Regions from separate parts of the Homo sapiens genome. Here region 2 is reported to be linked to region 1. Evidence: microRNA targets listed by miRTarBase, many of them from high-throughput screens and not tested one by one. Region 1 holds a microRNA gene; the other region holds the end of a gene's coding sequence.
Evidence for each region. Region 1 holds the annotated microRNA hsa-miR-6755-3p (UGUUGUCAUGUUUUUUCCCUAG, at 1,803-1,824, opposite strand). A microRNA usually pairs through its seed, bases 2 to 8, with sites in the 3' UTR of a target mRNA and lowers its output. Matches are read on the target gene's strand: a 7mer-m8 pairs with bases 2 to 8, a 7mer-A1 pairs with bases 2 to 7 and ends in A, and an 8mer does both.

Region 1 (4,392 bases):
GAGAATCACTTGAGCCTGGGAGACAGAGGTTGCAGTGAGACGTCTGAGACCGCACCACTGCACTCCAGACTGGGCAACAGAGTGAGACTGTCTCCAAAAAAATTAAAAAACAAACCTCAAGAATGGAGTAGTGAATAATACATTTCTACGGACCAAAAGGAAAGATGATATTCTCACCCAGTTAATCATGCAACAGGAAGGATTTCATTATGTGGTATTTTGCAACAAGAACCTAGGCAATCTCATTTTGCTAAAAGGATATGACAGTATTCCTTGTCTTTTGTGATGCTGTACGTAAGAATTTACTTGCTATAAAGGTTTACTTCTTGAAGTTCCTATTAAAATTTCTAAAAAACAATTGAAGCGTTCATTGGACCAAGACAGTAAAAGGCAGTAAGTTTTCCTGTTTATTCAGACTTAAGCATTATACTATTATCAGAGAAGTAAACTGTGCTTCAGAGATAGCTCAAAAAGGGGCAGTATCAAACACTGTACAAGATATCAAAACTAAACTTTAAAAATATACATATTTATAGAAACAAGTTCATGAATCTTTTTAAAAACCTGACAAAATTCAGTCTTTTGTATTTTTCTCTGGCTCACCTCATTTCACCTCCAACCTTAGCTTTATGATCATTCAGGCTTTCTTCACTCCTCTGCTTCAAGTTAACCCCTCCACATGTGATCTTGGTCTTCACTCTTTAGGGAATTTTTGCCCACAAATAAATGCAGTGTGCCTTATGTTGGAGACAAAATAACCAACTATTCCCAACCTTATGATCTCAATCTACTTAATCCCTCTTAGCCAGTAACATCCTTCTAGAAAAGGGGCAACAACTCACTACATGGACATACTTGCCATCTCTTTCATGATCCAACCCACTGCATTTAAACTTCTATATCCTCTCCTCCTTTGCCCTAATGATATCTCCTCTAAGGTTACCAATGGCCTAGTTCCAAATCTAATGGCAGTAATATTTTTTAAACTATAAAGAAAGGTTACAGTTAAACATTATCAGAGGTTCTAACTCTGTAGAATTTTAAATATTACTTATGAAACTATTACATAAGAAATCATTAAAAAATATAAAACCATAGGAACTATAATCTCCAATAATTATAAACACAGAATACATTTAGGGCTTATTATATGTCAAATACTGTTCTAACTGTCTCACACATAACGAATCATTTGATCCTCACAATAACCCCAAGGCAAGTATTATTATCCCTGTTTTATACACAAGGAACCAAGCATTGAGAAGTTGTTTATCCAAGGTCACGTAGTAGGAGAGCCAAGATTTGAATTCACTTTAGTTCTAGAGCCTATACTTAATCTCTGTATTACAAAACTTTCTCTGGTTAAGAGAACTACAAAAAACAACCATTATAAAAAGATAAGGCATAATTTTATTACTTTTAACTTTTTTTCACCACAATGAAAGTAACTAAACACACAGCTTTACAAAAATAAATTTTTATTAAAAGCAGTAGAGTCTGAGCAGGAAGACAGTACAAAGAATGTAAACAATGTAAACATCACTACATTCAGCTCAGCCTGATTGAATGCTGAAAGACAACTCTAAATGCTCTACGTGCCCTTACTAGCAAGATACATTAATTCTATTTTACACAGACAACAAACACACTCTAATTTTGATTAGGCAAAAGTATTTTATCGAAGTCGATCCCAGCGCCAAATACTGGCATCATCACAAACAGCTATAAGAATGCTGCTATCCCTGCTAAAACTGGTTTGTCGAATAGCAGCACCACATTTATGATGAGTCAGTGTTGTACATCTAGGGAAAAAACATGACAACAGGTTAAAGACCACACATAACGTTGTCAGTGTCTACCCTAAAACAGCGGATTAGAAAATAAGCAGATGTTCCAAGTCATACGAAAAGCACTTAAAACCAGAATATACTTCACTAAGAGCTCAGTCTCAAATTTTATAAAATTTAGATATATTTTAAGTTCAACAAGCACTACATAATTTGTATAAAAACAAGAAATGACTTGTCACCAAGGTACTTAGGAAAAACAAAAATTATTGGAATAAAAAAGAATAACTTTAACTCTGAAAACAGTAAATGTTAAAAATGACTTAAGGATGGCACTGCAAATATAAATGATCTTCTCTACATTGGCATACAAGTGTGGAGAAAAAGCCTGAAATTTTGAACAGAAATTTCTAAATACTTACTTGGCTTTATGAGGATCTTCTACTTCTAAATCCCAAACATAAAGTTTGCCAACTTGATTGCCCAATGCAAGCATCTGTATAAACATATTTTTAAAAACATCAAATTAATAAAATTACCAGGTTCTAAAGCATTGGAGGAATCCTCAGACAGCTTTCTTGTTTCAGAAAAAGCTCAGTTCCAGCCTCTGTGCTCTTGGCTATTTCTTTGGGTCTTATACTCCTGATTCGTAAATATGAATAAGAGCAATTAATACATCACAAGTGTCTTGAGCAAGTAAGAAGGCATTGTGCAAATTTATGAAGGGCCTTACAAATTTACATTGTTAGCATGGTACTTACTTTTTCTTCTGCCTTCAAGAAATACAGCAAATGCTGTGGAAAGCCTTCCAAACTTTTCTTACAGAAATAAATACCCAAGTAATTTGTTACCAGAAAATCCTAACAATAGATTTATTTAAATTTTTAGGTAACTAGTATTTTATCTGTCTTCTATCCTGATTTTTCTCTAGGAAACAGTTACATAGGTAGACTGACAATCTAATTACTAAAACATTAAGTCTTAGTAATGTTATGATAATGTTTATGTTATGGAACATAAACACCTAATTTCCACCATTGATACCTAACTGCCAACTTAATTTAAAGTAAGCACTGCAGATCATATGCAGAGCCACAAAAGTAGAATGAATAACACCAAAGTATTTGATGAATGACATCAAAGGGCAAAGTAATCAATACAAAACATCAGGGTAGATTTGTAAAGGAAAAAGAACATGGACACAACAGAAAAAGCTAGAATTACAATGGTCTTTCATAAGTCAGATCATTTCAAAATGTAAAAGTATGTTGATACCTTTTGCCAGAAATCCATAGAAAACCTCATGTACCAAATGTCACACTGGCTGTAATCAAATCGCCCAAGAATAGTCACATTAGATTCACTGGGTTTAATTTTATCTATATCATCTTCCATCTTGCCAGGTTTCCAGCACACAATGGCATTTTCACAAGACTAAAACAGAGAGAGAAATGAGAAAAAGAAATGTTAATGAGGAACTGAATCTTACAAAGTAAAAACAAGGCTTTTCTATTGTTTTGGAATTCACAGCTCTTAGAACCTGGTTAATCCATCTATCAAGTACAGTGATGTACATTCATTTATATTTACAGTCAATGACCATACTTAAGGACAAGAAATCTGATTATCAACAGAATTCGATAATACAAAAGAATCACATTGTCTGAAATATTCATTTTGGAAGTCAACATTTCTCTTTCAAGTTAAACCAAGTTCAGCTCTAGATACTCTGACACCCAGAGACTTTAAGTGTTTTATAGCACAGGTCAATTACAAACACACAGAATTAGAATACATGGCTTTTCAGAATCCGGCATTAATCTGGCTCTTGCTTACTTCACTAGTTTCATCTTTCCCCATGCAGTCTCCCATTTCGCTTCTAATCACAGGTGGTTTCCTTTACCTTATTAACTATTATTCCTTCATCCAGTATCTGTGCCACACAGTAGGTACTCAACAGGTATCTTAGGAAAGTTGATGAACTCACATAAATAGCCTTAGAATTCAGTTTATAAATAGGGCAATCGAAGGCAAGTAAAGCAGTTGTTTAACATCAAGACACTCATATGGGGATAGGATTGAAATAGGCTTCAAACTTATACTTTTCCTATCCTATAAAATCAAATTTGTATGCACATACCTAAGCAGTAAGTGGTAAAGAATACAATGAGAAAAAATTGCAAAACTGTGGGCACTATTCATATTACTGTCTAGGTCAGTGGTTTGCCCACGAAGGGACATTTGACAATGTGTCTGTGCTCTAATGGGTAGAGGCCAAAGATGCTACTAAATATCTTATAATGCACAGGAAACCCCCTACAAAAAAAAGAATTATCTGGCCTAAACTAAATAGCACCAGGATTCAGAAATCCTCATGTAAGTGAACAGTGCCCCTAGAGTTTTACTGGACAGCCTACATAATATAGTGACAGGTGGCAGCCCTGTGGGGTTCACAGGCATTTAAATAATTTAATAGTATGGCCACTTGAAGATTAGGGAGGAGACAACACATTTTTCTTCTCTACCTTTTTTATTTAGACTTTTTAAATCCTAGTGCTATATGACATCTATTATTCAAGTTTTTAACTGTAAAGGACCTTAGAAA
Region 2 (4,358 bases), not on the chromosome of region 1:
AAGAGAAGCAGATGCCTGCAGGTGTAGACTGCAGGTCGGAACCATGGGGATGGGTACTCATGGCCACCAAGGGGACCACCCCTAACACAAGAATGCCGCCTGTCCCCGTCCCCTCCCCAGAGCTATGGGTTCCACCTGGTTTGCTGTCAGGTCTTTGACCACCAGGGCCTGGGCATATGAGCTACAGAAAGACGGGCCTCTGAAGCATCGGAGGGGGCCCCAGAGCCTTCCTGGGCAGGAGCTGCCTTGCTTCACGTGACTCGGCCAACACCCGCCCAGGGTTCCCTGACACATTGCACCCAGGACATCCCCTTCTTCTGTCTCCGGGCCTCAGTTTTCCCAGCTGTCCTGATTCCTTGTGGCCCTCGGCCACAGGGCTCCATCTGCCTGGTCTCTGGCCAGGTCCTCATGCCAGTTTTGCACTCGTGCTGAGGGTGGCTTGGTGCATGGTGGGGGGCTACGCAGGGCAGATGGCATTCATCTTTGGCTCGAGGGCTGACCCCTTCCCAAGATCTGAGGTGACAGGGCCTGTCTCACCCTCAGCCTTGTGGTCTGGCCCCTGGAGGCTGCTGGCCAGATCGATGCAGCCAGCTGGTGCACATGCCACTGTCCCTGGTACACCTGTGTGTACCCAAAGAAGGATCCAGGGAGGGGAGGGAAAAAGAGGAGGCTTTTGCCCACAAAGTAAACTCGTGTCTCCTCCACGCTCCCCACCACAGTCCTGACCCCAGGGACCTGAGTAACCAGGGAAGCTGCCCATGGGTCCACTTGCCCTGGGGCTCGGTGCTCTAGAGACCACCGGTTCACCTGCACAGCCTTGGAGGGCCTGACTCAATTTACCCCACAGCACTGTACCCATTTCCTGTCCCCTAGAGCCTTTGATCACCACAGCCAACTGCCCTGCCCACCTGGAAGGGCACTGGAGTGTGGGTGGGGACAAGATGGAGCCCCAGTGGGGGAGAGAGATGAGAAGAGTCCCAGGACGTCTACCTCCGAGGGAGGCAAGTCCCCTTCGTGGGCACGGGCGTGTCCGCTGCTGCCGCTGTGTGGGTTCGGAGCTGGAGAACCGCAGCCCTGGAAGGAGGAGAGGCGCGCTTCTGCCACTTAACCGAGAGCCCAAATCCCAGACCGGTCCTTGCTTCTCTGAAACCCACAAAAGCAAACCTTGGGGAGCTTGCTGGGCCTGTCACTGAGGAATGGAGGTGGTGCCGGGGCCAGGGCAATGTCTGGAGGACAGACTCGATCTATCTTGACTTTCAGAACGAGGTTTCTGTTGTCAGACTTGGTTCCAGACGGTACCTGACCGGTGGTGACCCGACAGGATCCATCCTTATGATGCTCAAAGAATGAATTTTTACCACCGTGAAAGAACCACCAGCAGGCAAACCGCTCCTCCCCTCGGGGCCACTGTTCGGATTTCTTTGAAAATCTGTTTCCTACACTTCGCAAACTCCTGCGGTTTCTGTTTTTTATTTGGCAAACATCTCGTTTATTACCATCATGAATATCATTTGGACCTCTGCAAAGACTATATACATTCACATTAACGTACACGCTCAGCTTCAGGCCTCTGGCGGGCTGTTCGTGGCTGGTTCAGTAGCTGGGTCACTCCCGTATTGCACTGAGTTCCTAGAACTCCTGATAGCCACGCACACAGATGCCAGGCCACGGGCCACGCCACGCGCACAGATGCCAGGCCACGGGCCACGCCACACACACAGATGCCAGGCCACGGGCCACGCCACGCACACAGATGCCAGGCCACGGGCCACACCACGCACACAGATGCCAAGCCACGGGCCACGCCACACGCACAGATGCCAGGCTGCGGGCCGTGCCTGCTGTCTGTCCTTGTACTCGGTGCAAGCATGAATTTCTTTATCCCTTTATTTCCTTCTTGAAATCGCTGAGGCAGTTGAGAGGAGTGGAGGGAGGGTGGGCAGGGCTGGAGGATGGGAGGGAGCACGTCTGATAGAAAACGTCACCGAGACACACCCCAGGGCCAGAGGCGAACGCATCTGAGGGGTGGCTGGGCAGGAGCACCAGGGCTATGTACACGGTCAGGGTCTTCCCTGGGGAGGAGGCAGAGGGCTGCTTTTGTTTGTAGTTTTTTTGTTTTTTCTGCAAAAGTTTGGAAGAAAGGGGAGTAGCTGCGGTGGGGCGATGGGGCCGAGAGGTTGGAGTTGGGGCGATGGGGCTGAGAGAGGTCGGAGCTGGGGTGAGGGGGCCGAGAGAGGTCGGAGGGCGCGGAGAGGAGAGAGGTAGAGGAGGACGGGCTGGCCGAGAAGCAGTGTTTCAGGGAGGCCTGCTGGCTCCGCATGCTCGAAAAGCAGTCGAGAATCAACCCAAAAGATTGTCACAGTTTTGTTTCGGAATTATGCTCTCTCTGGGAAGAAAACTTTAGCACTTTTTTTCCACAAGTGGAAAACGGAAATATGAAAAGTCACAGGGGGCGTGAGGACAGACGGCGTGTCCTTTCCTACACATATGGAGACGCAGGCCGGAGCAACGGCACACGGACCACGCACACGCGGCGGACGCACCAACGCCTACGCAGAAGAGAACAAAAGTCGCTTCTAACTGGGCACAAACCCTCTGCACCCAAATATCCCGACACCCACAAACAAAATCAGAACAGAAGAGAAAAAGACCCACATCCAAACAAACCCAAGAGCAAGTGAAACAGTGAAAAAAATACTTTGGCAGTGACAAACAAATTTTGGATTTTGATTTCTTGTGTTTGCTTTTTTGGATTTCCTTTGGAGCAGAGGTGTGTCCGGTATCCTTGGCTGGCTAGCTAGCAAGGTAGTTCACAAGTATGCTTCCTTTGCTTTTTTAAAAAAACTTTTTGGATTTTTACTTAAAGCCAAAGAGTTTAACATTACAGGAAAAAAAAATCTGAAACCAAAAATGCATCTTGAGTCAGAAATCGAAATCTTTCCTCCCGTCTTCGCTGATCAGCCTCACGCCCCTGGGGGAGGGGCACAGCTGGGTTCAGATCTCCAGCTATAAAATCGCAGTTTTCTTTCTCCCTTTTTAATCAGGAGGGGGAGAACCCCCCCGTTTTCTTTGTCCATTTCTGAGTAGCTCTTTTGCCAACACACAAAACCCCCCAAAATTCTTTGCTGAAAATATAAGCCACCAATTCGATTTTTTCATTGAAGAGAAAGTGTGTGATAGTCATAGAGAGAGAGAGGATAGAGAAGACAGAGGGGGAGAGACAGACAGAGAGGAAAAGAGAGGTGGGCAGAGCCGCCGCGCCTGCGGCATCTGCTCTGCTGTCTAAAGCTCAGTCGAGGCTTCTGAGGATGCTTGAAGAGACGTTGTCAGGAGGTCTCCGCGCGGAATCATTAGGTAGCTGAGGCAGGTGCACTGAATGCGGTTTTGTTGGTTCTGTGTCTTCTTTCGGAGAGGGGCAGTAGCAGCAGTGACTAATTGGTCGGCTCCCCCAGGTCAGGCGGGGCGCAGTGTCTGGCAGGCCAGGCATCGGAGGCCAGGCACAGCATCCGGTGGGCCTGGAGCTGGGTGGGGTTGGCACGGTGCTGTGTCCGGCAGGCCAGGGGCCAGTGGGGTCAGCGGGGCACGGTGTCCAGTGGGCCAGGTGGGCTGGGGGAGCCGGGGCGAGAAGGCCCCGCAGAGCCGGCTTCGCTGGGGCTGGCAGCACCCACAGGCAGGGAGGGGCCCAGGCTGTGGGCGGCTTCGGGCGGTCCAGGCACCGGGTCGGCCACCACGGCTGTGGGGCCCTGCAGGCTCTGGCCACACACGTGGTGATGCTTCTCCCAGTCCCGATGCTGGCAGAAGGACCCGCAGTAGCGTGCCGCGTTGCAGCCGCTGCACGTCTCACTGGCTTTCCGCCCGCAGTTCCAGCAGCTCTGGGTGGGGGCAGAGGGGCCAGTCAGGGCTGGGTCTGGCCACCCGAATCCCCAACACACGCCTCAACCAAGCCATTCAGACCCAGCCACGTCATCACCAGGTGAGAAGAGAGAAACTCCAAAGCCCCACAGCCCTCGGGCCATGCTCCAGATACAGCCACTCACTGGGCCATTTTGCGGGACGGCATCCCACTACCGTGTCTCACGCTCCAGCCCACCCAGATAGGTCTGCGCTGTGCTAACTGGACAACGACCCCTGCCTCCTCTCCAGGAAGCCCTCCTGAGCTCACCAGGCTCCAAAACCGCAAAACCAAAGGGCGTGGCCCCGGCAGGATTGAGGCTGCTGAGATCTCACCATCCGCCTCTGCTGCATCCACACCCACCCGTCCCCCTCCCCACCTCTGCCCCACCCCTGCCTCTGCTGCACCCCCTCCACCTCTGCCCCCACCCTGTGGTGGGCTCTGCTCCCTTCCCGTAGGGTGAGTT

Region 2: the mRNA of CBFA2T3 is a reported target of hsa-miR-6755-3p. Seed matches in the 3' UTR shown: 7mer-m8 at 3,323-3,329.

Annotation. Positions count from the first base shown.
Region 1 is chr11:86,275,809-86,280,200 of GRCh38, reverse strand. It overlaps MIR6755 (microRNA 6755), which reads right to left and starts at 1,868; the gene lies at 1,803-1,868. EED (embryonic ectoderm development) reads right to left here. Exons shown (of 12, transcript NM_003797.5): 10 at 3,063-3,221; 11 at 2,210-2,283; 12 at 1,391-1,802. The coding sequence ends at 1,676.
Region 2 is chr16:88,873,404-88,877,761 of GRCh38, forward strand. It overlaps CBFA2T3 (CBFA2/RUNX1 partner transcriptional co-repressor 3), which reads right to left. Exons shown (of 12, transcript NM_005187.6): 12 at 1,455-3,872. The coding sequence ends at 3,573. Among named protein-coding and RNA genes, the nearest start is that of PABPN1L, 8.9 kb to the left of the region's middle. RefSeq lists a silencer at 1,089-1,241.